Regions from separate parts of the Homo sapiens genome. Here regions 1, 2 and 4 are each linked to region 3. Evidence: fine-mapped expression QTL. A gene starts in region 3. Each other region holds a variant in brackets. All regions are shown on one strand. Distances are between the middles of the regions. Region 1 overlaps STK32C (serine/threonine kinase 32C). Region 2 overlaps STK32C (serine/threonine kinase 32C). Region 3 holds the start of STK32C (serine/threonine kinase 32C). Region 4 overlaps LRRC27 (leucine rich repeat containing 27).

Region 1 (7,695 bases), 63 kb after region 3:
AGGGCAGTGCAGGACTGGACTCCAGGTACCCATGTGCCAAGTGCCAGGGTCAGGGGCCTGGCACAGCAGGTGCCATGTGGCCGTCCTAGGCATGCACGTGGGCGTGGACCACCACCCTCGTCCTCAGCTCTGTTGGGAATGGCCAAGGCTGTGCCGACCACGGGCTCCTGTGCCCGCTGTGGCTCTTTTGCCTCTACCGGCCGCTGCAAGGAGCACAGGGGTCTCTGGGCAGCGGCAACCTGGGCCTGGGTGGAGCCTAGGTGGACAGAGGGTCCTTGGACCCAGAGCCGCCCAGCGGAGTTCATCTCCCCAAGCTGTAGGCGGCCAGCTCAGCCCTGGGCCTCGCCCTGACACCCTGTCCCCTCCCCACTGCAGGGCAGGCCCCGCAGACTCCGAGGTCTGTCCTGTTGGGGTTGCTGCTGGATGGCATTGGTGTCCCCATCTCCCCTGCCACGGCCCAGCTGCCCTCTCACTCTCCTCCCTCCACTAGTTCAGCCCATCTGTCCCACGTGCTGGTTCACAGCTGACTTTCCTTTAACATCTGGTGACGTTGGGTGACGCCACATGGCGGCAGCTGCTCCCTGCCTGTGCGGCCGCGGCCCGGGCTGCCTTGGAGTGGCTTTGCTGGTGCTGGAGCAGCCTCTGCCTCGATGACATAATCTCTGGGCGTGCATAGGTTTTCTTGAGGAAGGAGGCTAGGATGCAGGGTGGGGCAGCTGCCGCCTGGAACGGGGGCTCGTGGAGGCTGTGTCAGCTTGTGGGTGTCGGCCACGGGTCTTGTCTGTGCAGCACGGCCCGTCCTCTGCGGCCTTTCTGCCCAGTGCCCAGCTCTGATGCCTGGCAGCCTCTTCTCTCACCCCTTGAAGCCCCACCCCCTCCGTCAACTTGGTCCCAACCTCCTGTGCCAGTCAGTGCCCCTCTGGTCACTTGCAGTGGGGAGTGCCTTTCTAAGGCGCTTAAATCAAACCGCTCTCCCCACCTCTGCGAGTCAAGCCCCACTACCGTCTTGTGCAGAGGAGACCAAGGCCACAGGTCACAGCCCCTTCCTCACCCCCAGGTGCTCTGCTGACTGCCCTCCCACTTCACCCAGGACCAGCTTGTGGGTCTGTCCATACCCTTGGGGTCCTTTTCCTGCCTGTGCCCAGGCTGGCCCCTCACCTAGGCACCCCCTCCCTTCCCCCAGCTGATGCCTACTTGTCCTGGAGGGCCCAGCACAGGCGTCCTCTCCCCAGGATGCCACCCTGCGCCTTCAGGCCAGCTCTGCCCTGTGCTCGGAGCCCTGAAGCCTCCGTGGGTCCTTGTCACGGCACCCGTAGCTCAGGCTGAAAGAATTCTGGGTGTGTGACTCTGTCCCCAGGGCCCATGAGGATGGACACTTTGCCTGCTGCGTCTATGCTGAAACCTGGGGCTATCCTGGGGTGCCCTGGGAAGGGAGTGGGCATTTTCCAGTTCAGAGGAAAATGCAAAGAAACCTTTCGTCTAGAAACTGTTCTGTCTCCTCCTCCACACACTGAGTGCCTAAAGCACTTGCCCCACCAGACGGCACAGGGTACCGCCAGGGAGCAGTGGAGATGAGACTCTAGGCCGTGCCTCCCAGGAGGGGTCAGTACCTACCCTGCTGTCTCCCCGGGTCTGCCTCTGGCCTTGGCTGTGTCTTCCCTGCCTTTAGAATAACCATGTGTGTAGGGGGTTGTTCCAGCTGTCGAATTCCCCAGAGAATAAGTGAACATGAGGCTGGGGTAAAAGTGGGTAAATAGGTGAAATGTCATGAACCAGCGGGTGTCCTAAACCTGGCTTCAGGGCACAGTGCTGGCCCTTCATGGATACAGCACACTGAGGGGTGCAGACCTGGGGACACGGACTTAGGGGTGCAGAATTGGGGACACAGGCCTGGGGACACAAGTGGAGGCAGCTGCTGGCCTGGGAGTCATCTGGAGGGGCTCGTCCTGGAGGCCAGGGGGTGACATTGTGGGACCCCCGTCTTATGTGTACGGAGAATGTCCTGGGTTTGAAAGGCAAGTGCAGACGGTCTGGAAAGCCCATCAGAATCCCTTTCCTTGGTGTGAATAGGGCACACGGACAGGTCTCACGAGTGACAATTAGGGGAGCCGTCCTTCTCCCGGAGGGACTTGCAGGTGTGGGAAATGGTGCCTTCTGCAGCTTCGCACAGGCTTGCGGAACGGCTCTCATGCTGGGCGCAGGCTCTCCCAGGCTACACAGGTCATGGTGGACATAGCCACAGCCCTGAGCCGCCTCTCGTTGTTCATCTTGGGGCCGTTTGCAGACTCCCCCAGGCTTGCCCAGTGAGTGCCAGCAGGGCTGACACCCCTGTCCTCTGGAGACGCGGAGCAGGGTGGAGGGGAACCAGGAACAGCTGCTCATGTGTGCATGGCTTCCCCCAAAACCCCAGGCCTGCCTGTCTGGGGGTCTTCACTGGATGGAGCAGCTTTCAGTGGGGGTGGCTGGTGCCTGGGAAGACAGCCCAGTCGAGTCTGGGACTCAGGTGTGTGTGGTTCATTCTTGCCCCATCCATGCTGTGGCTGAGCACATGCCTAATCCCATAGCAATCCTGGGAGTAGGACGTGCAAGACCCAAGGCCCATGTCTTCACTGACCGGGGCTCAGCCCCCTCCTGCCTCGCACAGGAGCGAGAGTTTGGCCCGCCCCACGGCGACCCTCTTCTAGGATGAGGGGCCCTGGGCAGTGTCGGGGTGGGGGATGTTGAGGTGGGGGAGCTGCTCTGGGGTGGGGCCTTGCTGCCACCTCACCAGGTGTCCCTCTGTTTTATCCTGCAGTGAACTTCGACCACTTCCAGATCCTTCGGGCCATTGGGAAGGGCAGCTTTGGCAAGGTAAGGCAGGGCCTGGGGTGGGGACTGGGCTGAGGGGGCAGGGGCAGAACCGTGGAGTCGGACATGCTGTCCCCTGAGCCCACCTACTCCCATCCTCCTTGGGAGAAGCAGCCTTACCTGGGCAGAGGCTCCAGGTCTTTTAGGGAGGACGTGGGCACTCCTGCCACGGAGGCAGCTGGCTGTGCCGCCATCAGACTGGGCCCCATGGTGTCACCAACTCCGCAGCGTCCAGGAGCCACCAGGAGGACAAAATCGCAGCTTTGGCTGAACTGGAGCCTAGAGGCCAGGCTGTGCCTGCGGCTGCTCCTCAGGACCTACAGGGGACAGGACGGAGGGTGGGTGCTGAGCGTGCATCCTCAGCTGGTCCTTGTCCTCATCCTTATCCCTGTCTCCAGCCCCGTCCAGAGTGCCCTGCTGCTGTCCTCCAGATAGGCCTGTTTGCCGGCCTGGACGGAGCCCGTTCCTTTACTCTCCTTTTGTTTTCTCTTGACCAGATCTAACTTCCTGATTGCCGCCTTGTAATATCTAGAGATTGGGGGTAATTATAACTCAAAGAGGCTTAACGAGCACTCGGAAAAGGTTGGAATTAGCCCTCCGGCTTCTGCGCGCAGCTCTGTTGTGGATGAATCACTTCTGAATGGACAGTTCTTTTCAGCTGTCCCGGGAGGCTTAGCAGATGGGTGCTGCCTCCCTCCTGCTCCTGGCTGTACAGCTGCCTGGACACTGTGTCTATTTAAGCCCCATAAGCCCTTTTTAAAGCGATTGCCATGCTACCGGAGCATAATACGTAGGGTATTTGAATGCGATTAATTACCTCCATTTCATTGTATAGCAAACGATGGCTCCACTGGGTTACTTGAGGCCTGGGATGATGAAAAGTCAGAGCAAATGAGCCCCTTTGCGCAGTGCATTGAGAAAGCTCCCGTGCACCAAGAAGAGAGTGCTTTTGAGTCCCTGCATGTTGGGAGGCGCCCGTGGACCTGCACCGTTTTGTTGCTGGTGAGGCTGGTTGACCATCGAGGTGAGGTGCTGAAGCTGGCGGAGTTCGTCAGAGACGCTCAGGGCTGTTGGGACTGACTCAGACCCTCCTGTCCTCCCAGCTGAGCCTAAGTTCTGTTTCCCAGGCCCACAGCGGGTGCACGAGGGGCAGGCAGGATGGAGTTTTGGGGGACTGCTCCCCTCTGGCAGCGGAGGACGGCAGCTGTGACCA[G/A]GTTCAGGAGAGGTGGCTTAGGGGGACCCTGGGAGTCACCAGGCATCCAGAAATCAGGTTCAAGGAGGGAGGTTGGGAAGCCTGGGCCCGGCCAGCATGTCTGGAGAGGGCCAGGCCGAGGGCATCTGAGGGGCAGAGACCTGCCCTGGGGAGCGAGGCTGGCGGGTGCAGGTGCTGTTTCCTGGGGCCCCCAGCATCTCCCCATTGCCCCTGTTGCCCCCGCCTCTGCTGGCCCTGCACTCCTGCCTGGGGATGGTCCCCTCCTTCTCATGAGCACAGGTGGGCAGCCTCAGCCCTGCCCACCATCTGTAGACTGCCAGGGTTCTACTCCTTGGACCAGTCCTTAAGAGGCTCGGAAACGCCAGCTGGCCCAGAAATGGGCGGCTGTGGAATGCGGGGAACAGGAGCGAGCTGCTGGGTGCCGTGTTCAGATGCGGGGTAGTCGTGCACCTGGAGGGTTCCTTCCGGCTCACAGTTAGGCCTCCTCATCAGGCCTGCAGGGGTTCTGTGCGGCGCTTGTTGATGGGTGCCTGGCACTGAGGGGAGGGTGAGGTGAGGCCTGTCACTGACCTGGAGGGGTCCTTCCAGCTCTTTCACTGGCCAAGGCAATGACCCCATGGCAGGAAGGATGAGGGCTGAGAAGGGTGGTTCTGCGTGTGGTTGGGCTGTAGCTGTGTCTGCTCACATGTGGCCTCAGTTCAGAGGGGCTGCAGCAGCAGGGGCCCCAGCCACCCCTGTTTCCCTGCAGGTGGTGGTGGGCCCAGGCTCAGCTGTGCCCAAGCCCTGCCAGTGTTTGAGCCACCTGTGAAAATGGCTCCGGGTTGAGGGGTGGGATCCCCTGGCAGAGCACCGGAGCCCACCCGTTCAGGGCGGCGCAGCATTTAGAGTCTGACCGGGTAGAGTCGGGTCCTGCCAAATGGCCCTGGTGCAGCTGCTCTACCACCAGGGCCATGGCTCCACCCTCGGGGCCGCCGCTCTCGGAAATGGATTATCTAGACCTGGCCCTTGGCTTTTGTTTTTGTTTTCAGTTTTTAAAAAATTACAGTGAATTACACATAACAAATTTACCATTTTCACTGTTTTGAAGACAGCTTTGAGGCATGAAGTACATGGTGCCCCCGGTTCTGTCCGGCTGAAAGTGGTGGCGGTAGTTAATTCCAGGACTAACCACTTAGCAGGGAGGAATCTAGACTTGGAGAAAATCTGTTTCTCCCTGCCATGGACATTCGTCCAGCCTGCCCTCCGCCCCTGCCTGCCCCCTTACCCGGCATAGACTTCCGTCCAGCCCACTCTCCACCCCCGCCTCGCCCCCAGGCTGCTCAGTGTGATTAGAAGCCTGCTGCCTCCTCAGCGTCCAGCCGGGGTTCCAGAGGCTGCGGTGTCTGAGAGGCTCGCCACCTCCCCAGCGCTGCCTAATTGTGCTTGTTCAGAATCCAGGACATCGCATTCCAGCCTTGGGCTGTGGATATCTCAGGCTGAGGGCCATGATCCCAGGAGCCACAGATGGGGGCAGCCCCATTCCTGCATCCTCCTGTGAGCTGGTGGGTGGGTGGCTTGGATGCAGCTGCCCCAGGGATGAGGGGAGGTCGCTGCCCCAGGGTCTCTCTGGGACCAGGCTTGGCTGGGGGGTGCAGACCAGTGCAGGTTGGGCTGGGCATGAACCCCAAGCCCATGCCGAGCCCCGGCCCCTCTGGCCTGTAAGGTGGGCCCCATCTCTGGACACGCATCTCTTAAAAGCCATTGACCTTTCCGGTCTGTGGTTCCCCTGGGTGGGGGTACAGCGTTTTCCTGTTCTTTGGGCCCAGGTTTCCCAAACCAAACGTGCCATGGAGGAGCCGCCCCTCTGGCTGCCTTCTGAGGCTGAGAGCCAGGTCTGTGAAACGTGCTGACAGTAGGCACAGGGGCAGGAGGAAAAGCATACGAATTTATTATTAGTGTTACGTGTGCAGGGCATCGTGGGGGAAAAAGAAAACACCCAAAACAGTGGTGGGCCCCAAGGGCTGATGTGCAGGCTGGGAGAAGGGGGCGCGGGGGGCCGCATGGGGGGCACACAGCTTTTGGGGAGACTACAGGGCCCTCGGAGAAGCAGCGGGGGCTGTGATGGTTTGTGACTGAGCCTGAGGCGGGGGTGGATCCTGGCCCCTCTCCCGGGGGAGGGTCCCTCTTCCTGGGCCGCTGGAACTGCAGGGGGGCTGTGCTGGCAGTTCCTCTTGGAGTGTCTGTCTTTAGGCAGATGAGGGGAGTTTGGAGAGAGCCCCCCCAACCTCAGGTGCTGTTTTCCAGTGGTTTCTGCTCCAAACAGTCAACAACGCAGAGTTTACTGGTGCCGTCGGAGCCCCTTCACCACCCGTGCCCTTCCGTCCTCCTGCTGCACTCCCCCCACTCGTCCCGTGTCCTGGGTGCCTTCAGCCGCCCTCCTCCCAGCAGCTCCCAGCTCATGGCCCCTCTCAGAGGACACCAGCCCCTGGCCCCCATACATGCTTGAAGGCCGTCTGCACCCAGCACTGCCTCATTCACGATCAGGGCAAGAAACGTTCTGTTCTGGGGAGAATGGAGTCCATCTGGAATTCAGCATTTTTTCAGTCAGGGTCTCACTGTGTCACCCAGGCTAAAGTGCAGTGGCGTGATCTCGGCTCACTGCGACATCCACCTCCCAGGTTCAAGTGATTCTCATTCCTCAGCCTCCTGAGTAGCTGGGACTACAGGCGTGTGCCACCATGCTCAGCTAATTTTTTTTGTATTTTTAGTAGAGACAGGGTTTCGCTATGTTCTCCAGGCTGGTCTCAAACTCGTGACCTCAAGAGATCTGCCCACCTCAGCCTCCCAAAGTCCTGGGATTACAGCTGTGAGCCGCTGCTCGTGGCTGGAATTCAGCACTTTTAAGTTGGCGGGCTTGAGGTCTGGAGCTGCTTGTGGACAGCCCGTCGAGGGTGCAGGCCTCTCTCTGGGCTTCCCGCTCTGTCCCCTGAATGAAGGGTTCGCTGACCAGTGAGTCCGCAGTGTTCTGGAGCCTCTTCTACACTCTGCCAAAAATGCCGGCTCTTCCTTCGTGTTTATTTTTCCACACGGACTTCTGAATACGTCTTGTCAAGGTCGAAAGTAACCCCGCTGGGATTTGGATAGGAGTTACGTTTTCAGATTAATTGAGAGCAAAGTTGAGATCTTACCCATCTAGGGGTCTAGTGTCTTTTACCCAAATAGGCGTCTGCTTTTTCATCTTGATTCTTCACATTTTGTTCCGTTGATGATACGTCGTTCCTATGGTTATTCTATGTCATGTTGTTACGTGGAACTTTTTGCTGCCGTGACTAACAGACTTTATTTTCTAACTTTTCCCAGTGTTAAATTGTCGACCTTGTCGTTGAGCCACTGCCTGGCCCTGAGCCCTGCCTTCCCGCAGCTGTCAAAGGGGCAGTCGGCGTCCTCTTTGGATGCCTCTTTGGAGCCACGGCTGTGCTTCTGGCTGGAGGAGTTGGGTGGGCTGGGCGTGTGGCTCTTGCACCCAGCCTGGGCAGCAGGTGTGGGTGGAGGGTCGGGTTTGGCTTTGCCAAGCTGTGGCTGGTGCTCCTGGGAATAACAGCCAGGCCCTCACTTAACTAGGAGTGTTTGGGGTGTGAGTGCTAAGTGCTGGGAGA
Region 2 (7,695 bases), 91 kb after region 3:
CGTGAAGCCCTCAGACTAGCCCAGGTGTGCTGGCTTTGGTTGTGTGTGCAGGGACGGCCATGTGAAGCCCTCACACTCGCCCAGGTGCGTCAGCATCAGTTGTGTGTGTGGGGACGGCCATGTGAAGCCCTCACACTCGCCCAGGTGCGTCAGCATCAGTTGTGTGTGTGGGGATGGCCACGTGAAGCCCTCAGACTAGCCCAGGTGCGTCAGCATCAGGTGTGTGTGCCGGGACAGCCACGTGAAGCCCTCACACTCGCCCAGGTGTGCCGGCTTTGGTTGTGTGTGCGGGGACGGCCACGTGAAGCCCTCATGCTCACTCAGGCATGCTGGTATTCTGGGGCTGCCAGGACAGGTGACCACGAATCAGGTGGTTGAAGAACAGCAATGCGTCTCTCTGAGATGGATCTGAGTCGTAATGAAATGGTCTCCTTCACAGCCGGCTGTGCGTGAACTACTCTGTCTCCTGCAGCTCCCCTGTCTTGATAATTGGCTGTCTAGGCAGCGGGTAAGGTGAACCCCTTGGGCAGTTATGTGATGATCTCAGTTTCTGTAAATCGGAAGTCCAGGCATGGTGCAGCTCTGTTCCCTGCTTCGGGGTCTCACCAGAATGTGAGCTAACATTGAGGTCGTGGCCTTGTCAGGTGCAGCTCTGTTTCCTGCTTCTGGGTCTCCCCAGAGTGTGAGCTAATATTGTCTGAGGTCGTGGTCTCATCAGGGATTTGACAGGTGCTGTGGTTGAAATGTTTCCCTTAAAACTCGTGTTGGAATTTGCTTCCTATTGTGATGGTGGTAGAGATGGGACTTTTGGGGGCTGATGGGGCCACGTAGGTTCTTCCAGCATGGATGGGGTTAATGCTGTTGTAGAAGGGTGACTTTAGTCCTCTTTTGAGTCTTTGATCCTCTGCTATGTGAGGACGTGGTGTTCCCAATGTGGACGTGGTTCGTGTTCCATGTGAATGTGATATTCACAATAGAGCATCAACAGGCTCCCTTTTAATCAGCAGATTTAAAAAGAAATGTGTTGTCTCATGGCTTGGAGGCCTGAGTCCAAAGTTAAGATGTCAGCAAAGCCGTGCCCCCTCTGAAGGCTCTCCGGGGAGGAAAACCAGTCCTTGCCCCTCTACCCTCCGGTAGAGGCTGCCTTGGCCTAGACGCATCCCCCCAGCCCCTGCTTCGCTGCCGCGTGGGGTCGGCCTGTGTGTGCGTCTCCATCTCCTCCCCTCTTCTCATAAGGACACCAGGCATTGGATTTAGGGCCCACCCTGATCCAGTATGGCCCCATCTTATCTTGATGATATCTGCAAAGACCTCACTTCCAAATGAGGTCACATTCACAGGTACCCAGGATTAGAATTTGAGTGTGTCATTTTTGGGGACACAGTTTGGCCCATACCACCAGGATGTGGCTGATATTCACCAAGGAGTAGCTATGGTTGTGTGTTGATGTCAGGGTGACGGTGATGACCCTGGGTCCCTCGGTGGTCCCCTTGCCCCTGAGTCTGCCTGAGCCTGTGGTGGATGTCCTGGGAAACTCTTGTGCCTCAGCCCCCGTGCAGCCTCCTCAGACCTGGTGGGCCCTGTGTTGCTCCTGGGCAGAAGACGGGTGTCAGTCCCCTCCTCACCATGATGTGGGGGGCAGGGGTGGGGTCATGCCCTGGGTGCCCTGATTTTGGGGGGAACACGGCCCCCCAGTGGGTCAGGCTCCCATCCTCGCCCCTCCTCCAGGACGGCTGCCGGCAGCCCTGGGTGTCCTCAGGCAGAATTGCTGGTGGAGAGCTGCTGTCTGCCAGGTGGCCACTGTGAGGCACTGCTGAGAGCCACAGGATGGTTGGAAGGTTCTCGGGGTTGGGGGTTCTTTGGCATTGCCCCCATTGGATGTTTAAGTTTTCCCTACCAGAGCATGTCCAGAGCCAGGGCTCTGGGGTGTAGAAACAGGCCCAGGATGAGTTAGGAACCCTCATGGGAGACTCAGGGATGGACAGTGTGCAGAGCCCAGCTGGCCATGCTGAGTTCCCAGGAGGCTCTGGCTGGGAACAGGTAAGGCCAGGCACCTGTGAGCGGGAGGAGCTCGGCTTTGTCTTGGGTTGGTTGTGTGGAGATGTTTTGGCTTGAGGGTAGGAGGTGTTCTGAAAGGAAAGCATCACTCCAAAAAAAAAGTCCCACTGTTAACCTTGAGGCTGAGAGAGGTTTTTGGAAACAGCTTTATTTTGATATAATTCACATTCCATGCAATATACAGTGCATCCATGTAAAGCATATAATTCCATGGTTTTTAATATAGTCACAGGGCTGTGCATTCTCCACCACAATCTGATTTTAGAACCTTTTCATGTAATGTAAGAGAAAGACCCCACCTATTAGCAGTCATGCCCCATTCCCCTCTTCTCCCCTCCCCTGGCAGCCACGAAGCTACTTTCCGTCTCTGTAGGGTTGCCTGTTGTGGGCGTTTCATGGAAGTGGAGTTACACACTATGTGGTCTTTGCAGCTGGCTTCTTTCACTTCGCAGGATGCTTTTGAGGCCCGTCCACGTTGTAGCCTGTCAGTGCTTCATTCCTGTTGATGGCTGAGTAATATTCCACATATGTATCACCTTTCCTTTATCCAGTCATCAGTTGATGAGTATTTGTTCTTTCCACTTGTTAACATTTTTCATTATCATGAATAATGCTGCTGTGAACATTCACATACAAGTCTTTGTGTGGATATGTACTTTTATTTTTGGGGGGCACATACCTAGGCATGAACCCGCTGGGTCATATGTGACTCTGTGCTTCATGTTTGGAGGAAACACCTACCCTTTTCTACAGCAGGTGTGCCATTTTATGCCCCTACCAGCAGTGTGTGAGGGTTCTAATTTCTCCATATATTTACCAAGTCCTGTTATTGTCTGGTTTATTTTTTAAAAAATCATAGTTATCTTAGTGTGCAGTGATTGTGTGGTTATGGTTTGCATTTCTCTGATGATATTGAACATCTTTTGAGGTGTTTTATCAGGCATTGTGTCTAGAGAAATGTCTATCCAAATGTTTTAAAATTTTTATTGTCTTTTTTTTAGTCTACTCTGACAATATATTTTAATTGGCATATTTATTTTACTTTATTTTTTTTTAGAGACAGGGTCTTGCTTTATTACCAAAACTGGAGTGCAGTGGTGCAATGAAGGCTCACTTCAGCCTTGACTTCCTGGGCTCAAGTGATCCTCCCTGCCCCAGCTGCCAGAATGGCTGGAACTGTGGGTGTGCACCACCACACCTGGCTCATTTGAAAAAAATTTTGTTGTAGAGACAGGGTCTCACTATGTTGTCCAGGTTGGTCTCAAACTCTTGGAGTCCTCCCACCTCAGCCTCCCAAAATGCTGGGATTACAGATGTGAGCCACTGTGCCTGACCTAATTGGTGTATTTTAGACCATTCACATTTAAAGCGACCAGGGAGGCTGAGGCAAGAGGACTGCTTGAGTCCAGGAGTTTGAGACCAGCCTGGGCAACAAGGTGAGACCCATCTGTATTAGTCTATTTTCACACTGCTAATAAAGGCATACCTGAGTCTGGGTAATTTATACAGGAAAAAGGTTTAATGGATTTACAGTTCCACATGGCTGGGGAGGCCTCACAGTCGTGGAAGGCAAGGAGGAGAAAGTCACATCTTACATGGATGGCGGCAGGCAAAGAGAGAGCTTGTTCAGGGAAACTTTTGTTTTTAAAACCATCGGATCTCATGAGACTCATTCACTATCATGACAACAGCACAGGAAAGACCCGCCCCCATAATTCAATCACCTCCCACCAGGTTCCTCCCACAACATGTGGGAATTGTGGGAGTCACAATTCAAGCTGAGATTGGGATGGGGACAGAGCCAAACCATATCATTCTGCCCCAGCCCCTCCAAAATCTCATGTCCTCACATTTCAGAACCAATCATGCCTTCCCAACAGTCCCCCATAGTCTTATTTTGGCATTAACTCAAAAGTCCACAGTCCAATGTCTCATCTGAGACAAGGTAAGTCCCTTCTGCCTATGAGTCTGTAAAATCAAAAGCAAGTGACTTCCTAGATACAATAGGGGTACAGGCA[C/T]TGGGTAAATTCAGCCATTCCAAATGGGAGAAATTGGCCAAAACAAAGGGGCTACAGGCCCCATGCAAGTCTGAAATCCAGCAGGCCTGTCAAATCTTAAAGCTTCAAAATGAACATCTTTGACTCTATCTCTCACATCCAGGTCATGCTGATGCAAGAGTTGGGTTCCCATGGTCTTAGGCAGCTCTGCCCTTGTGGCTCTGCAGAGTACAGCCTTCCTCCCGGCTGCTTTCGTGGGCTGGCATTGAGTGTCTGTGGCTTTTCCAGGTGCATGGTGCAAGCTGTTGGTGGATATACCATTCTGGGGTGTAGAGGATGGTGGCCCTCTTCTCAGAGCTCCACTAGGCAGTGTGCCCCAGTGGGGACTTTGTATAGGGGCACCAACCCCACATTTCCCTTCTGCATTGCCCTAGCAGAGGTTCTCCATGAGGGCCCCACCCCTGCAACAAACTTCTGCCTGGACATCCAGGTGTTTCCATACATCCTCTGAAATGCAGGCAGAGGCTCCCAAACCTCAATTCTTGACTTCTGTGCACCTGCGGGCTCAACACCACATGGAAGCTGCCACAGCTTGGGGCTTGTACCCTCTGAAGCCACAGCCTGAGCTGTACCTTGGCCCCTTTCAGTCATGGCTGGAGCAGCTGGGATGCAGTGCAGCAAGTCCCTAGACTGCACACAGCAGAGGGACCCTGGACCTCGCCCATGAAACCATTTTTTCCTCCTAGGCCTCTGAGTCTGTGATGGTAGGGGCTGCCGCAAAGGTCTGTGGCATGCCCTGGAGACATTTTCCCCATTGTCTTGGTGATTAATATTCAGTTCCTTGTTGCTTATGCAAATTTCTCCTCAGAAAATGGGGTTTTCTTTTTTTTCTCTCTTTTTTTTTTTTTTTGAGACAGTCTTGCTCTGTCACCCAGGCTGGAGTGCAGTGGTGCAATGGCGGCTCATTGCCACTGCAACCTCCGCTTCCTAAGTTCAAGTGATTCTCCTGTCTCAGCCTCCCAAGTAGCTGGGATTACAGGCACGCACCACCACACCCAGCTAATTTTTGTATTTTTAGTAGAGAAGGGTTTCACCATGTTGGCCAGGCTGGTCTTGAACTCCTGACCTCAGGTGATCTGCCTGCCTTAACCTCCCAAAGTGCTAGGATTACAGGCGTGAGCCACCGTGCCCAGCCAGGAGTTTCTTTTCTATTGCATTGTCAGGTTGCAAATTTTTTGAACTTTTATGCTGTTTCCTTTTTAAAATGGAATGCCTTTAACAGCACCCAAGTCACCTCTTGAATGCTTTGCTGCTTAGAAATTTCTTCTGCCACATACCCTAAATCATCTCTCAAATTCAGAGTTCCACAAATCTCTAGGGCAGGGGCAAAATGCTGCCAGTCTCTTTGCTTAAAGCATAACAAGAGCCACCTTTGCTGTAGTTCCCAACAAGTTCCTCATCTCCATCTGAGACCAGCTCAGCCTGGACTTCATTGTCCATATCATTATCAGCATTTTGGTCAAAGCCATTCAACAAGTCTCTAGGAAGTTCCAAACTTTCCCACATTTTCCTGTCTTCTTCTGAGCCCTCCAGATGGTTCCAGCCTCTGCCTATTACCCAGTTCTAAAAAGTTGCTTCCACATTTTCAGGTATCATTTCAGCAGCGCCCTACTTTACTGGTACCAATTTACTGTATTAGTCTGTTCTCACGCTGCTAATAAAGACATATCCGAGACTGGGAAATTTATACAGGAAAAAGGTTTAATGGACTTACAGTTCCACATGGCTGGGGAGGCCTCACAATCATGGCGGAAGGCAAGGAGGAGCAAGTCACATCTTACATGGATGGCAGAGAGAGCTTGTGCAGGGAAACTTTTGTTTTTAAAACCATCAGATCTCATGAGACTCATTCACTATCATGACAACAGCACAGGAAAGACCCGCCCCCATAATTCAATCACCTCCCACTGGGTTCCTCCCATGACACACGGGAATTGTGGGAGTCACAATTCAAGCTGAGATTGGGGTGGGGAGACAGCCAAACCTTATCACCAGCTCTATAAAAGACAAAAAAATTAGGCAGGCATAACAGTGCATGCCTGTAGTTCCAGTGACGTGAGAGGATTGCTTGAGTCCAGGAGTTTGAGACCAGGCTGGGCAACATGGCGAGACCCTGTCTCTACAAAAAAAAATTATCTGGGTGTGGTGGGATACACCTGTGATACCAGCTACGCAGGAGGCTGAGGCAGTAGGATTGCTTGAGCCCAGGAGTTCAAGGCTGCAGTAAGCTATGATCATGCCCCTGCACTCCAGTCTGGGTAACAGAGAGACACGCTGTCTTGTAAATAAATAAGTGGTCATTTATATAGTTCAATATGATATCTACCTTATTTGTAACTGTAGTCTATTTATTGTTCTTCCTTTTTCCCTATTTTTCTGCCTTTTCTGGTTTTAATTAAGCATTTTATATTATTCTAGTTTATCTCCTCTCCTGGCCTGTTAATTATACTTCTTTTTGAAATATTTTTAGTGGTTGGCCTGGACATTGCAGTATACCTTTACCATACAGTCTACCTTCACCTGACACTCTGCCCCCTCATGTGCAGTGGGATGCCTTGTGACGGCACCTCTCGTGCAATCCTCCTGTTCCTGATGACATTGCTGTCATTCATTTCATTTATCTGTATGCTATAATTGCTCATTACATTGTTACTACTGTTATTTTAAACAGTTATCTTTTGGATCAATTAAGAAAAATTAAAAATTTCATTTTACCTCTATTCATTCCTCCTCTAAAGTGCTTCCTTTCTTTATGCAGACCCAAGTTGCTGACCTAAATCATTTTCCTTTCCCCTGAGGAACTTCGTTTAACATGTCTTATAGGACAGGTCCAACAGAGATGAATTCCTTCCCTTTTTGTTTGTCCAAAAAAGTCTTTACTTTCACCTTTAAATAATAATTTCACTGGATATAGAATTCTAGATTGGTAGGTTTTTTACTTTCAACACTTTAAATATTTCACTCCGCTCTCTTCTTGCTTATGTGATTTCTAACAGGCAGTCTGCTCTAATTCTTTTTCTGTAAGTAGAATTCCTCGCCACCCCCCACCCCCAGCTCATTTCAAGATTTTCTCTGTCTTTGGTTTTCTGCAATTTGAATAATGATATGCCTAGGTACAGATTTTTTTTTAATATTCATTCTGCTTGGTGTTCTCTGAGCTTCTTAGATCCTGTGGTTTGGTGTCTGTCATTAATTTCAGAAAATTCCCAGTCATTATTATTTCAAATATTCTGTTCTCTTTCTCTTCTCCTGCTGGAAATCCAATTATGCGTGTGTGGTGCCGTTTGAAATTGTCCCACAGCTCTTGGATATTCTGTTCATTTTTTTCACTCTTTTTTTTTTCTCTTTGCATTTCAGTTCGAGAAGTTTCTGTTGACATTTCTTCAAGCTCATAGATCCTTCCTCATCTGGATCCAGTCTACTGAGGAACCATCAAAGGCATCCTCATTTCTGTTACAGTGTTTTCTACTTCCAGCATTTCCTTTTGATCCCTCCTTGGAGTTTCCATCTCTCTACTTACATTGCCCTTCTGTTCCCCATCTGTTCTTGCCTGCTTTTCCCCTGGAGCCCTTGCCATATT
Region 3 (7,695 bases):
CTGTCTCAAAAAAAATCTTGAGCTGGGATTTTGGACTTAGAGTTGCTGCTGTAATGGTTGGGACTTTGGGGCTGTAGGGTGTGGTGAATCCATGCTGCCCATGGATGTGGTGGGTTAAATGGTGGCCTTTTGCCACCAAAGGACATGTCCGTGCCGGCCCTGTGAATGTGACCTTATCTGGAAAGAGGATCTTTGCAGATGTAACTAAGTTAAGGATCTCAAGATGATATCATCCTGGAGTAGGGTGGGCCCTAAGTCCAATGACAAGTGTCCTTATAGAGGAAGAAAAGGGCGGAGTAGACAGATGAAAAGGCAACGTGATGATGGTGGCAGCAGGGGCTGGGGTTGTGGGTCCTTAAGCAGAGCTGAGCGGTGAACTCATGCTCGGCCCCGGCGCACTGCAGTGGGGGCGAGGGCTCCTTCCTAGTGGCTGCAGCCCGTCCTGCATGTTCTCCGTCGCTGTGCTCCTTCCTGAGTCACCAGGTGGCCACATGACCTTTAAAATCAATACTGTCACCATAGCAACCAAGTGTCCCCACACGTGGGCTCCAAGGCCCTGGCCTTCCAAGAATCCTCAGTCCCAGGCCCCGCCAGGGCTGAATCTGAGGGCGCCACGGCCATCTGTCTTCCATTTCCCAGGAGGGAGGCTGTCCGTGGATTCTCCACATAGGTGGACACCAGCATCGGAGTCCCATGGGAGCCCATTTCCTGTTTTGGGGGTCAGTTCTGAGATGTGTTTTCCAGCAGGAAACAGCACACACGAATCGTGTGATCTGAGGAGATTTAATAAAAGGACTCTTAACAAAGGCGTGGGCAGAGCATGTGTTAATTTCATAATGATGACAGAAGATGAAGCACACATCTCGGTGTGACTGAGCTGTGTGCCAATTATGTGGCAACGGAGGACCCATGTCCAAGGCATGTCCCTCAGGAGGCGTGGCTTTATGGACGAATTATGAACAAATGCACATGAAGCCTGGTGTCAGGGACTGCACCTTGTCCCCCAAACCACCCCCAGCCCTTCAGCACATGCCACGGCCACTCACTTGCTGTCCTGCAGCATGGACCCTCCTGTCCTCCCGCACAAGCCGGTTTCTACCTTAGGGCCAGCTCCTGCTGTTGGAACCCGGACACCTGGCCTCCCTTGGGCTACTCGTTCATGCTCCGGCCTCAGCATCAAGGTCACCTGCTCAGAGACTCATGCTGGACTACCCAAGCTAAAGTGGTCCCACGATCATGCACGTGCTGCCCAGCCATGTGCCTTCCTGTGTGCTCCTGCGTGCTAGACGTCAGTGCACTGAATGCATTTATCTGTCACATTGTCACTTGGTCTCCTGTCATTGGAAGGGGCAGACACCATCGCTGCCCTAATGAAGTTGACGTTCCCGGGCAGCATGGGCACACAGGGGAACTCAGGAATTCTCTACTGGCCTCACTGCCCCTTCCCATCCACAGCTGACTCTGTCCCAGCCTCAGTCCCTCCCAGCATCCCCCTAGAACTTCAGAGCTACCTCCCATGAGGCACCAGGGGTTGGCATCCTCTTGGGGACAGCAGTTCCTGACCCCTCCTGTCTCATGCCTACACTGTGCACCTCTTAACGCTCAGTCTTGTGTTTGCCTGGACCCTGAGCCGTGGCTGGACAGTACAAGAGTTGCACCTGGACAGTACAAGAGTTGTGCCCTGAGCCCACAGGCCCCTCCAGGGCTGATCTGCACTGGCCAAATCTTAGGACCCGGCATTCTTTTGGGAGCTGCTGTTTCCCTACAGATCCTTCCTGTTTCCTGACTGAGAGGCAGGTGCCTGGCTTGGTGTTTGAGGCTCACAGCAAGGGTGAGGTTGGAGGGTCTCCTAGTTAAGTGTGCAGATGTCCCCATGAACCCCTCTGCCCCCCTGCACTCTTGTCTTCTGCAGGACTTGGTATCCCTAGGTCAAGAGCCCCTTTGGACCCTCAGACCAGAGGACTGTCCATCCCCAACTGCCCGGGCCGGGGAGGCGTCCTGGGCTCTGGCTGTATTCACATTCTCCCGCCTTTTGGGGTCCTGGTTACCTGCAGGTCCTCAGCCTCTCCAATCTTCAGAGTCAGCTTTCTACCTGCTGTCTGAAGTCTATTAACATGTCTTCCCTTCTCCTGTTCCCTCTTAGGTGGTGGTGGGGACGTTATATCTTTTATTCCTTTTCTGCCACTTTTAGGGGTCAGAGGGAGAGGAGGAGAGGCGATGATGTAAGTTCAGAGGCTGCGTGTTTTGGGAGGAGCCCTGGGGAGTCTGATGTGTGCACCGGGTACGCAGGGTTCCAGGCACTGCCCTGCCTTGGTACCTCCCCTTCCAAACGCTCCTTCACCACTCCTGCTGGGATGGGCACCGAGGGCTTCCTCTGAGGCAGGTGCTGAACCCACTGCCTTCTGCGTGCCTGCTGGAGAATGGCAACTTTGAGGGAGAGCAGGGAACAGAGCTTCGCAGCTGCAAGGGCTGAAAACTCGGCTCTGTGCACTGGAAGTTAGAGACCGATGCGTTTGTGCTAGCCAGGCAGGGAGAGCTGCGGTGGCTGGTTGGTCAGGTAACCTAGGTTATGCTGCCATAAAAATACCCTCTAAATCTCAGTAGTGAAATGCATGCCATGTGTCCTAAGCGGGTGCATGTCCAGGTGGGTGCATGTCCTAGGCGGGTGCATGTCCAGGCGGGTGCATGTCCAGGCGGGTGCATGTCCTAGGTAGATGGGCATGGTTCCATTCCTTATAGTCCCCAAGGGATGGGGGCTCCTGTTGGCCCAGAAGCCACACAGACTTCCCGTGCTCACATTTCATGCATCAGGCGGTTAGGGCGGGCGGCCACACTGAATGTCAAAGGCCGTGGGGAGGCAGGGCTCACAGTGGCTGAATGACAGGGTAGACAGTTGTGTGCGGTGGGAGGGACGGGAGCGGGAGACACTGGCCTTGGAGCCATGTTGGGGATCCGCTCATCGTCCGGGCGGGCAGCAGGAAATCCCATCTAGGATTTCACCGAGGAGGAAGAGACCCCGTCTTTGTGTCCTGGTTACAGGGCAGAACTTAAGGAGGTAAAGGCTTCCTAAAGTCAAACAGCCCGGTAGCAAAAACTGATTCTTCAGTGACAAGCGCCAGGGGCAGGCGGCGAGGCTCCATGCAGAGCCGCGCCTTCTCCAGGGCACTCCAAGGCGCCCAGCACTTTCCGCGCAAGGTCGCGCCTGGCCCTGCGCAGGGGCAGAGGTGCCCGGAGGTCAAGCCGCGCCCCAGGCCTCCGAAATACGCCGAGTGCCGAGGCCCCTGTCGCATCTGGACAAGGGGACCCTGGGCGACTCGGGCACGCGGTCTCAGGCCGGACGGGGGTCGCGAGGATGGCACGGGGGTGCCCGAGAGCGCGGGCGCACGTGCTCAGGGCTTAGCGCCCACCCCAGGCGCCCGCGTGTGCGCGCGCGCAGCCAGGCCCGCCCTGCCCCACCCCACCCTCTGGCGCAGCGCTTGGACTCAGCCTGCCGCCTCCTGACCGTGAGCCGGGCTCTGCCCGGCAGATTCCCGCCGCCCGCATCCCGGGCCTGCAGCCCGGCCTCACCCTGCGCAAAGCAGAAGGCTGGAGTTTAGGGCTCCCCGCACTGGGCGGCGGAAGCCCGCGCGCCGGCTGTTTTCACGAAGAAGGCAGGGGAGGGAGGCCCCCGGAGACCGCGAGAAGGTCCCGCCGCCGTGCCGGGCACAGCAGTCCCCGTGCCAGGGACGCCGACCTCCGGGGCCCCAGGATACCCGTGGGGACGCTCCCTGCCTCCCTCGCTCTCGTACCCGCCGTCTAGTCTGAGCCGTGGTCCCCGTGTCCCGGCGAACCACAGCCCCCATCCCTAGACTGGTGGCGGCCACCCACTCCCTAGCGACACTCCAGGCACTAGCCCCGCCCCTGCCCCGCCCCCGGCTCGGCCCCGCCCCTACCCTTCCCGAAGCTCCGCACCTGCCACGCCCCGGCGCTCAGCTCCGCCTCGACCCCTTCCAGGAGCTCCGCCCCGCCCCCGCCCCTTCCAGAAGCCCCGCCCCTGCCCCGCCCCCAGCGCTCGCAATCTACGGGGCGGGTTCCACCGCCCAGAAGAGCGCACGGCGGGCGCTGCCGGCCCCGAGCGCTCCCGCTACCACTGCCGCTCCCGGCCCTGCCGGCCGGCCATGCCCCGAGTTCCGGCTGCCGCGCGCACCCAGACCCGGCGATGAGGAGTGGCGCCGAGCGCAGGGGCAGCAGCGCCGCGGCGTCCCCGGGCTCGCCGCCCCCCGGCCGCGCGCGCCCCGCCGGCTCCGACGCGCCCTCGGCCCTGCCGCCGCCCGCTGCTGGCCAGCCCCGGGCCCGGGACTCGGGCGATGTCCGCTCGCAGCCGCGCCCCCTGTTTCAGTGGAGCAAGTGGAAGAAGAGGATGGGCTCGTCCATGTCGGCGGCCACCGCGCGGAGGCCGGTGTTTGACGACAAGGAGGACGGTGAGTGCGGGCACGGGGACGACGTGGGGGCCGCGCGCTATTGCAGGGGCGGGCGCGGCTGGGCGGCTTTTTCCCGCAGGGGTTCCCCCGGTGTCCGGGACGGCTTCCCGGGGCGCCCCGGCTTCCGGAGAAGCTCGCGCCGGGTGGCTGCGGCCCCACGCGAGTTCTGGGCGCCCGCCCGCGTCCTCCGTTTCTAGTGGCGGCGCCGCAGGAGGAGCAGGCTGGGCCCGGGCCCTCGGGGCGAGGGTCCCCCGCGGCTGTGGCGTCTCCGGGCTTGCGCGCGCCTCCGCCCACCGCCCGTGGCAGCCCTGCTTTCCGCTTTCCGTGATCCGCTCGGGCCCACGTGCGGGCTCGTTTGTACTTTGCAGTTAGAGAGGCGCTCACCTGTGCCGCCCGAGTGCGAGTGAGGCTCCTGCCCCACAGGTGGCGGGGCCCGGCCGCTCAGAGGCTCAGTCTCCTTGGTGACCGCGCGGTGTCCATCCTCTGCTCACCCATGTGCGCTGGAGGCAGGGCCAGGCCGTTGTGCAAAGACCTGCCCTGCCAGGAACGAGTGCGCTGCTGAGTCCTGTAGATAAAGCCGCCAACCCCGGGGACTGGTGTCTCCTGAGTGACCGTGCAGCCGTGGGCGCCATAGAAAGCAGAGAAGGCAGGTGAGGTGACATGGGACAGGCCTGCAGGGACACCTCCCGGGGTGCCAGGGGGCCCCGGGGACCCCCGAATTATCACCTGCAGGGAGATGTGGTGCCGCGTCTGCCTGTGGGCACTGTAATACAGTCACATGCAGACATACAGCTCTTTTCTACAGGTAACATGCAAATCATTTAAAATCGTACATTGATGACACATTTCATGTTTTTTGACATTTTCTTAAAATACTTGAAATGTGCATTTTTCATTTATAGATAGCGTGCAGAGGTATGATGGATCCTTCAAAATTTTAGAGCCCAGCGCTCAGGAGCCAGGCTATTTACTTGCGATAAATAATTTAAGCATTATGGGAAATTACAGTAATACGACCTCAGGCCGGCGTTGGTGAGTGTGGGGCCGTGCACCGCCGTTCCTCCGGGAGACGGCACCGGGGATTCATGGTGTGCTGCCTAGAAGGAGGGCTGAAGGCCCAGCCACACCAGGCCCCACACGCTCCAGGGTGGCCCGTCACTGTGTCCTGAACTTCGGGACAGCAGAACTCACGATGGTGAATGTTTGAGAAATGTTTTTGTTTTTAACATAAATATTCAAAGTAAAGAAAGCCCAGAGTGAACTAGGAGCTGATCAGGAGGCAGATTTGCCTCTCGTTTCTGGCTGCGGGTTGAGAGAACGTCTGAGAAACGCATCTGGTTTAGCACTTGCTGGTGTCAGCCAAGAGCTGGCTGCTCTTCTGGGTCTCGGCACCGTGCTCTCCGGGGGTGGGAGTGGAGACAGTGGTGTGGCACTGGGCTGCCTTCAGCTTTGTAGGGTAGACTTCCCTGTGTGTTCACAGTGTGTTATGTCACAGAATTCAAGGATCACTAGAAAGGCAAAAAGAGCAAGCACAGAGTCTGTCTGTGGGGCTCACGGTCTGACTTGGGAATTCTTTCACATCCCCAGCATCACCGTATTTGCCTGTAGTAGGACGGCAGAGATTCGGCTGACGGTGTCCCACGGATGCTGCTGGCTCCGTATGGCTTGGTATGCAGCCACATCCCCAAACTGAGCACCCGCCGGGACTCAGCTGGGCTTTGTGTGGTGAAATCAGGAGGGCAAGACTAGGCCCTGGCCCGAATAGCAGAGGACATCTCTGGGCGGTGACCGCTTCCCTCCGCTTCTTCCTGTCACTGGCAGGGCACAGACAACTTGGGAGTCATAGCACAGGGTTTGCAGAAGAATGTTCTGCACCTCTGAGTGTGGATGCCGGGGACTCGTGTTGGTGGAAGGGATTCAGTTTGGAAGGAGAAAGGAGAGTCTTTTAGGAAGGGACTGTTGCCCCTGAGTCCCACCCCTTTCAGGTTGGTGCAGTCATTTGCCTGGTACTTTCGTGGCCCCGTGGCAGCACTGGCTTAAGGAGGCCCTGGTGCTGTGTTGGTGTCTCGAGTTTACTGAATCTGCACGGTTGCTATGGCAATGCTAGACCTTCCGATGAATTTTTTAGATTAAAACACCTAATTAATATATCAAATTTAGTATGCAGAGAAAAGGAAAAAAGAAATTAAGAGTGCTGTTTAACAAAGTGCCAGGTAAATTTCAACTGATAGGCATAGTTGCGACATATAAGACTAAATGTCCTCTGTTCCTTTTAATCCTTGTGGACTCCAGAACCATTTTCCTAATTTGGCAGATATTTGGTGCATGTACAGAATTCTCTGCACGTCTTTGTCATGCCAGAACTGAGGGTCTCCAGTTTTCCTTCCCCTCAGCCCCTCACATGCTCCCATTCTATCCCTTCTCTGACTTCGGTGAAAAATTCATTTTTGGGGTTGAACTTGGTTAGGGGGTCTTTCTGCTGCTGCTCTGCACCAGAGCTGCATGGCGTTGGGCGAGCCCCTTCATTCCTCTCTGTCTTGGTGTCCTGGTGATACCAAGTGAACCTGAGAGGAGGCTCCGGTACCTTCCCGCTAAGCAGCTCTGCAACCTGGGGGGCGCTCGCCCGTCTCGGGGTCACAGCATTGAGTCTCCAGCCTGACGTGGCATTAGCCCGCCAGCAGGAAGTAGCTCCTCCCTGAGGGGCTTTGCCTTCATCTGGGGAAGGCTGGAGTGGACAGGCCCTTGCAGGCTGTGGACGGCCCGCCCTGGGCGCCGGGCCGGGCAGGCAGTGAGGCAGGACCAGGGGCCACCAGACTCCTCAAGTCATCTCTTAAAATTAGAAACACCTTTGTTTTTTCCTAATTATGAAAGCATTAAAATGTATGCATTTAAAAACATTCTATACTTTATGCCACGGTATCTGTAACTTCAGCATTGGGATCACGGTGTCACCTCCCAGCCTTTTTCTGGAAATACAGTCCCAGGTACAGCCGTGGAGAAACACTCTCTCTTTGTTAGCAGAAGTGGGATCCTGCTCTGCATGCCAATTTGCCGTAAGGTGCTTGTTGATTCAGCGATATGTTGCCAGCCTCTTCCAGACCTGAGGCATCATTTGTTGGCTGAATTTACAACAGTTCTCAGCCCCAGGCTGTGGACCCGAGTCATTCACTGGGCACTCTTAAAAAATGCAGATGCTCAAGCCCCACACCCGTGAACTGTGGGTGAACTGGGGGGG
Region 4 (7,695 bases), 38 kb before region 3:
GGGACAGGGGTCACCTGGGGTGCGTGCTGGGCACTGGCCTTTAACCTGCTGCTTTTGGAAGGGCAGGTGGCCCAGGCTCTATGGAACACCAGGCTTCCCCTTGTGGTCTCAGGGTCCTGAGGGGTATGGAGGAGCTGCCCCAGAGGAAGGCCTGCTGGACGTCAGAATCAGGCTGGGGCAGTGATGCTCCGTCGTACTCCAGCTCCATGTTTGATGACTTCAGAATGCTTTGATTCCCTCCCAATATAATTTTGGGATTTCAGGACCAGACCATTATTTACCTATGATTTTTACATAACATCACTTTTCTTGCAAGTATTTTGGACATGAGCACTCAGCCTTATAAGCAGGCCCAGGCCACACGAGTCACCTTGGACCGGGCCTGCTGCTCTCACCATGCCCACTGCTCCCTGGCCAGAGAACACAGAGGAGCACCAGCTTCCCGAGTCCCAGACCCTCAGGAAGGGCCACCACCCTGAGCGCAGACCAGGGCCATAATCTTAGAGCTTCTTCTTAATACCTGTGACCCCACGACAACCTGACCAAGTGGGGAAACTGAGGCCCTGATAATGCATGTGAGACCACAACCACCCCGTGGGAAAGCTGAGGCACAGAGTGGTTCTCTATGGCTCACCCTGGGCAGAGGCAGCAGAGGGGGAAGACAACACTCAGGGCCCACCCAACCATGGGGCAGGGGCTCCAGGTTGAGGCTTCCTGCCAGAGACTCCAGTTCTCTGCTCCAACTTCCCAAGCCACCCAAAGCAATCTCCGAAGGCTAGGGTCTAGTATCCAAATCTGACATATTGATCAAATTATAAGTACGATTAATAAGCATACCACAATTCACTTGGATTAGCTATTATTAGGGTCCCTAACAATAAATAAATATTTGAAGGGAGGAGGGAAGAAAAGAGGTTTCTAAGCAGCAGGCTCAGGATATTCCTGCCCTTTCACCGTGCGACTGTGTGGACTAAGAACACCACAAGCGTGCTGGAGCGTCCGAGGCCTCGCTGTAGCTGGGAACCTGCTGTGTGTGCTGCTAGGACATCCTACCCTTTAATCTTTTAGTGATGCTTCCAAGGTTTGTTTTGTTCTGTTTTGAATGTTCAAACCTACAGGACAGCTGAAAGATCAGGGCCATGAGCGCTTCATGCCAACACCTCCGGGAAGGTCTGGTGCCACTGTGAACCTGCTCGTGCTGGACGCTGCGTGGAGCCTGAGGGACCACAGACCACTGCGGCCTCCAAGAATCTTCACCCCCAGGAAGCCATTGTTGTCCCCTCGGCTATGACAATGTGCCCCTTGAGAATGCATGATCTAGATTCACCAATTGTTATTTTGCAGCATTCTCTCTCTAGATGTTTACACACACACAGGCACACACACCACATGCAGGCACACACACGCACACCACAGATACATACCTCCCATATGTGTAGGCGCACGCCCTACCACGCCCATGATTCGAGTTTTTCTCTCATGTAGTCTCTGCAGAGCCTGTTTCCTAGGGACCCTTGTCCTGGGTGTGAAAGGAAAATAAAATCTCGGCCCCCAAACTCACTGTACCAAAGGCAAAGGCAAGCTTTGGAAGTGGGCCACACAATGACTGCCTTCCTTTTGTCCCCAGGCAGCTGCCATTTATTTTCTGCATAACTGACCTTTCCCCCAACTCCTCTCTTTTCACAGGTAAAATGTGGATTCAGTGAGCACTGATCGAAGCCTCACAAGAATGTGCCCACTTGGCTCACTGCCTGCCCCCACTTTTACTGTTCTTTCCTCCTTTCCCTGCTGCCCATTCTTTCTCCTTTAAATGCTGACATCCTCAAAGCTCTCTCTGGAGAAAGCACAGGCCACAGATCTCACTGTCGCTTATGTCTCTTTTCCCCGGGCGTATCCTCAACCTTGGCAAACTCAGCCTCTGAATGGACTGAGCTCTGCCGCAGATGCTCCGGGCTTGATGCGGGTCCCCGTTACCCTAAACCTGGGACCGGCACTCACTGCACAGTAAACGGTGGCAACGTGGAGGACACTTTAAAAGCTGGACCTGATGTTTTCAAAGATAATTTAAAATAACTGTATAAATTCGCAAAGATCAAGAAAATCCCCCGTTGCTTTTCAGTTTTACCTGAAAACGTGTCTTGGCTTTGGTAGTTCTTTCTCAATGTTCAAGGCCGCCTTGAGATTTGGAGGTAATTCCCTCGTCAAGAGCTGATCTCCCAGAACGTCTGCCTTCACGTGCTCAACAATCTCCTGCCTCAGCTTCCAAAAGCGCCTGATCTCCTCCTCGCTGGGCCAGTTCTCTGAGGAGTCCGCAGACTTCCTGAGTTCACTCAGGTCTGGCTTTTCCACAGGTGGGAGAAAGCTGGCCTTCTCTTTCATCACAGCCCCCTCTGGGTCCTGAGCGTTCACAGCTCCTTGGTTAGACGCGTGGTCTCCAGACAACTCCAGTCCTGGGCTCGGGAGGTCACGGAGGGTCATCTCTCTAACCGGTGGAGCCTCTGGGAGAGTAAGAAACCGCTTTAGTAGCTACCATCAACGCCATCCCTCTGTGACTTATTCAAAAAGCCAGTGACGGCCTGGATGGTGGGGGGTGGGGTGCCCAGATCCTCCATGGCTGCCACGTTCCCTGTCAATCCAAACAATTCCCGTCACCCCACCTGCCACCTGCACCACGCCAGCCTGCTGCGGCACACAAAGCAGTTCCACATGGAGGGAATGGAAACAACACTGCCAGAAGCACACCTGGACTCTCCCACACAGGCCCCACCAGGCGCACCTGACCCTCCCCGCAGGCACCACCGGGCGCACCTGACCCTCCCCTGCAGGCCCCACCAGGCCCCACTGAGCACATCTGACTTTGATGCAGGCCCCACTGGGAGCACCTGACCCTCCCACGCAGGCCCCACCGAGCACACCTGACTCTCACGCAGGCCCCACTGGGTGCACCTGACCTTCCCATGCAGGCCCCACTGGACATGCGTGACCTTCCCACACAAGCCCCACAGGACACATGTGACCTTCCCACACAAGCCCCACTGAGCACGCCTGACCTTCCTACACAGGCCCCATGAGACACGCCTGACCTTCCCACAGAGGCCCCACCAGACACACCTGACCTTCCCACACGGGCCCCACCGGACACGCGTGACCTTCCCACACAGGCCCCACTGAGCACGCCTGACCCTCTCACACAGGCCCCACCGGGCGCGCCTGACCTTCCCACATAGGCCTTACCACTTTGGAGGGACTTTTTGCATGTGTACACAGGGCAATCTTGCCACATTTAATCAACATTTCTGCTTCCCCTCAGATCACTTAGAATCTTTGTTTCTAAGTAATGTTTAGCCCATTATGCCTGCTTTTCTTGTTTGGTGATGCTTTTGTTGACTTTCTCAAAACACGACCTCAGAGAGGCACTCCAGGCACTTTGGGAGCCACTGGGACCTATTGGCCAGTCTTCTCCCAGCACGTGCCCAGCACGACCTGAAGGCTGAGTGAGACCCCAGGTGGCCGTCGCAGTGGACACAGGCGCATGGACATCACGCCCCTGGCTGCCACATGCTCCTGACTGCTGCGTGCTCAGGGTCTTAGGTTTGAAAGGAAAAGTTTTAAAAAATGGGCAAACATGCTTCAAAACGTCCTAAGAAGTTGTAAAATTCCCCCTGGGGTACAAGTGACTAGAAACATGCATATTTGACCAATCTGCCTGTGGACAACTGATTTAGGGCCAGGGACAAAACTGAAATTCATGAAAATGAAAGCAAACAGGAAGAGTGGGATACAGCAAAAAGACTTTTATTTATTTATTTATTTTTTTAAGACGGAATCTCGCTCTGTCATCCAGGCTGGAGTGCAGTGACACCATCTTGGCTCCGCCTCCCGGGTTCACACCATTCTCCTGCCTCAGCCTCCCAAGTAGCTGGGACTACAGGTGCCCACGACCACGCCCAACTAATTTTTTGTATTTTTAGTAGAGACAGGGTTTCACCATGTTAGCCAGGATGGTCTCAATCTCCTGACCTCGTGATCCGCCCGCCTCGGCCTCCCAAAGTGCTGGGATCACAGGCGTGAGCCACCACGCCCGCCAGCAAAGACTTTTTAAAGTAATTGAAAGGACAAAGTACTAAAAATATACATAGTAGCTGAAAAATCACTCTATGTGGCCCTAAAACCTAATAGAAAAGAGTCAGAAAATACTTATTTTTGACCAGTTACTTAATGTATTTTTTTCAAACTTACAGAAAAGTTGCAATAACACCGCTGAGAAGTTGATGGACCCCGCACCCCATCAGCAGCCGCTGGTGCCTGGCCCCCGAGGCTGCTGCCCCCATGAGCCTACCCGCCCTCGCCTCTCTGTCTGGGGTGCTCATGCATTTCCTAAAACACTCAAGGGTAACTTCAGACATCCTGCCCCTCCACCCTCAGATGGAGATGCTCACACATCGCCATAGCGATTCACCAAAACCAGGAGCGTCCCATCGCTGACTTCTGTCATTTACTGGCTGGCCTTCCTCACACCTTGATAACTGTCCCAGTAATGTCCTTTATCATATTTGTCCTGGCCCAGGATCCAATCCAGGATGAAGCATCACATCCAGTTTCCTATTCCTTTAGTCTCCTTCAACTGGAATGAACCTTCAACTTCTCCTCTTTTTTATCCTGATCCTCCAGCAGGGTCTGTCCGTGTCTCCTGTGCTCCCTGTGTCCTGGCTCCGGCTGTGCCTGACGGTTCTGCCCCTCCATCCTTGTCCCAGCTGTCTCCAGGTCCTGGTCCTATCTCTCCTCGGCCACCCCATGCCCTCAGCTACCTGCCCCCACTCCTGCCAGGTGCCCAGTGCCCTCCACACTGCCAGTCCAGCGGCTACTTTTCTTTTCCTATTTTTATCACAACATCCTGGCAGCATCGGGGTCAAGGGTGCCACAGCCAGGCGGCTTCAGCGCAATGCCCCAATGCAGCCACTATAACCTGGTTAAAATATGTCTACAAACAACTCAGCAAGCACAGGGCCAACAGCTGACTCTTAATCATTTAAAACAATTTCCAAATAGAGTCCATCTGGGTCAAAAGTGCAAGGCCACACGTTATTTACGAAGACCTAACCCACACATTTCAATTGCAGCACATCTATAATCACCTTGGCTAATGTTCCAAACATGCATTTTTCTTAAGTATCAAAGTACATCACAAATAGTAAAATTTTAAATATTCTGACAATATTTCAGAATATGTACTTTTTTTGGCAAGGCTTCATTATGATTCTCCT[T/C]TATCCCAATTTAACTTTACCTTTTCCAAGTGTAACTACAATGCGTACTCAAGACCAGAACACATCATGAGCATCTGAAAATACCTGGCTGGTCAGTATGTTGAAAGAATGGAACAGGTTAGTGAGCACCCACCAACAAGGTGATTAGATAAAACATGTCTACAGGGCCATTTTCCTGCTAATTTCTTGTACCTCGTTAGGAATAAGGAATATTTCATTGTACTTATTTTAAAATAGCTGCCTAATGCAGCATCAAGTCATTCCTGAAGCAGCCGCCTGCGGGTGGCTTGGAGGTGATAACTGTTTCATTTGATTGATCACAATAAACTTCTACCAAAATCCACTTGAGCCAGGATCTATAATGTGCCCAGATTTATAGAACCAAGGAAAAGTCACAGAGATGACTGGGTCGGCCTGAGATCAGTGTACACTGTGTCAACTCAGCAGAGGACCCATGGCTCCTGTATTTCTCAGGATGTTATTAAAGAGAAGACAGGTTCTGCCCTGATTTTAAAAAGCTGTAACTTCAACGTTAATGTGATTTGTCATAAATCACCTCCTACAAACCTTGAGAAGTTGGATTTCTGGGGAGAGAGTGTTCTACTGCCCACATCCGCAGGAAGCGCTGGATAGCCACCAATCCCTTCTGCACAACGAGCTGAGGAGGGAATTCCAGAGGGCAGTGTCTTAGGTTCAGTGCTTTCAGCGTGGTTACGCTCCCTGCAGTGGAGGAAAAAAAAACTGTCAGCATTCTATATACCATTCTTGAAATGAAAATGAGGAATAAATAATAGTAACTTTTCACATTTTAAAATATGATTCTATTCAGTATTTGGGGGAAAATCACGTTAACAGATGTCAAAGATTTGCTTTAAAGGTAACTCTGCAGGAGACGGATTCCGCAAATTAAGACCAGGATGGTTTCCAAAAAACAAATAAATAAAATCAAACAAACAGAAGCAGCCACAACCACCTTCACAATTCTGTAAAATTCAGAATACAAAGTCGCTATATTATCTAAAATGCCCATTTTCCACATAAAAACTACCAGACATGCAAAGAAAAGGAAAATGTACCCTACACTCAGGAACGGAGCAGACAATGGAAACTGTCTTGGAGGAGGCCCAGATGTTGGGTTTAACAAAGACTTCAAAGCAACCATTTAAATATGTTCAAGCAAATGAAGAAAATTGTGTTTAATTAGAAGAAAATAGAATACAAGGACTCCACAAATGTGAAATGTCACTAAAAATGGAAATTATGTGAACTTGGAGGCTTTGGAAACGATGGCCGCTGAGAGGTAAGGCTCCCGTGGTGGGCAGTGGGCTGGTGGGGGCTGGCTCACTCCCCAGGCTCAGGGCGAAGTCCCCGGAATGAGGAGCACGGGGAAGCACTGCAGGGGCCCTAGTCCTGTGGCGTTTCCCAATCTGAGGGAGCCAGGGTTCAGTGTGAAAGATGGATGCTTGGATTTTGGGTATTTGGGTGTCCCACCTTTCAGCCGCGCTCGCTTTTCACATGTAGGTTAAGTATTAGGCTCTACAAACTGCAAATGCCTTGTTGGCCCTGTCCATTAATGGGCTCTGCCCTGAGCTCACTGGTCCAGTTGGAAAACAGAGACTAAACTAGAAGCTACCTATCTAAATGAAATTCGTTTCCTTATCAAATCCTGTGGCAAGTGACTCTGTATTATCTTGTCATCCATTTTTAGTCTTCAAACACACCCAAACTCCTTCTTTAAAAAGCTTAAATTCTCTCTCTGTTCTTTGAAGTGTAAATTTGCTATTCTGTTTTCTCTAAAACTGTGTAAGGGTTCCAGCCATAACTCGTTCCATTTACAAAGGCACAATTTAACCTAACTGTTCTTTTATTTTTGTTTTTTGTTGTTGTTGTTGTTTTGTTTTTAGAGAGAGGGTCTCGCCCTGTTGTCCAGGTTGGAGTATAGTGGTGCAATCAGAGCTCACTGCAGCCTTGAAGTCCTGGGCTCAAGTTAGCCTCCTGCCTCAGCCTCCTAAGTACCTAGGAACACAGGCATGCACTACTGCACCTGGCTAATTTTATTTTATTTTATTTTTTGTAGAGATGGGGTCTCACTATGTTACCCAGGCTGGTTTCAAACTCCTGGCTTCAGGGGATCCTCCTGCCTTGGCGCCCCAAGGTGCTAAGATTACAGGCATGAGCCACTATGCGTGGTCTCAACTGTTCTTTTAAACTAATGAGTTTTATCTGATTCATGGCTAAAAATAAAATCAAAGCTATACAATCTTAATGTTTGTACTTTTATGTATACATGCGTATACATGTCTGTTTTTATACTGTCTACATGGTAGCAAGTGACTTACAAATAAATGAGTACTCATAAATTAGTTCTCCAAAATGCTTCTCAAGTTCATAATAGAAATGCCTTCAGAATTTTAGACATTTTTTCCTGGGC

What was found. PIP is the estimated chance that this variant, and not a neighbour inherited with it, causes the effect.
Region 1: its variant is the best candidate, but not a certain one, in a credible set for the expression of STK32C in sun-exposed skin (GTEx, PIP 0.84).
Region 2: its variant is the best candidate, but not a certain one, in a credible set for the expression of STK32C in whole blood (INTERVAL, PIP 0.53).
Region 4: its variant is the best candidate, but not a certain one, in a credible set for the expression of STK32C in whole blood (INTERVAL, PIP 0.55).

What each region holds. Positions count from the first base shown.
Region 1 is chr10:132,241,055-132,248,749 of GRCh38, reverse strand. It overlaps STK32C (serine/threonine kinase 32C), which reads left to right. Exons shown (of 12, transcript NM_173575.4): 2 at 2,795-2,850. Among named protein-coding and RNA genes, the nearest start is that of DPYSL4, 58 kb to the right of the region's middle. RefSeq lists an enhancer at 4,980-5,864. The variant G/A (reference allele first, on the strand shown) is at 4,061.
Region 2 is chr10:132,213,738-132,221,432 of GRCh38, reverse strand. All of the region lies in intron 10 of STK32C (serine/threonine kinase 32C), which reads left to right. Among named protein-coding and RNA genes, the nearest start is that of DPYSL4, 31 kb to the right of the region's middle. The variant C/T (reference allele first, on the strand shown) is at 4,077.
Region 3 is chr10:132,304,337-132,312,031 of GRCh38, reverse strand. It overlaps STK32C (serine/threonine kinase 32C), which reads left to right and starts at 4,082. Exons shown (of 12, transcript NM_173575.4): 1 at 4,082-4,460. The coding sequence starts at 4,199. RefSeq lists enhancers at 333-627, 2,269-2,811, 2,812-3,356 and a silencer at 3,609-4,258.
Region 4 is chr10:132,342,787-132,350,481 of GRCh38, reverse strand. LRRC27 (leucine rich repeat containing 27) reads right to left here. Exons shown (of 11, transcript NM_030626.3): 5 at 5,832-5,984; 6 at 2,126-2,498. Among named protein-coding and RNA genes, the nearest start is that of LRRC27, 14 kb to the right of the region's middle. The variant T/C (reference allele first, on the strand shown) is at 5,265.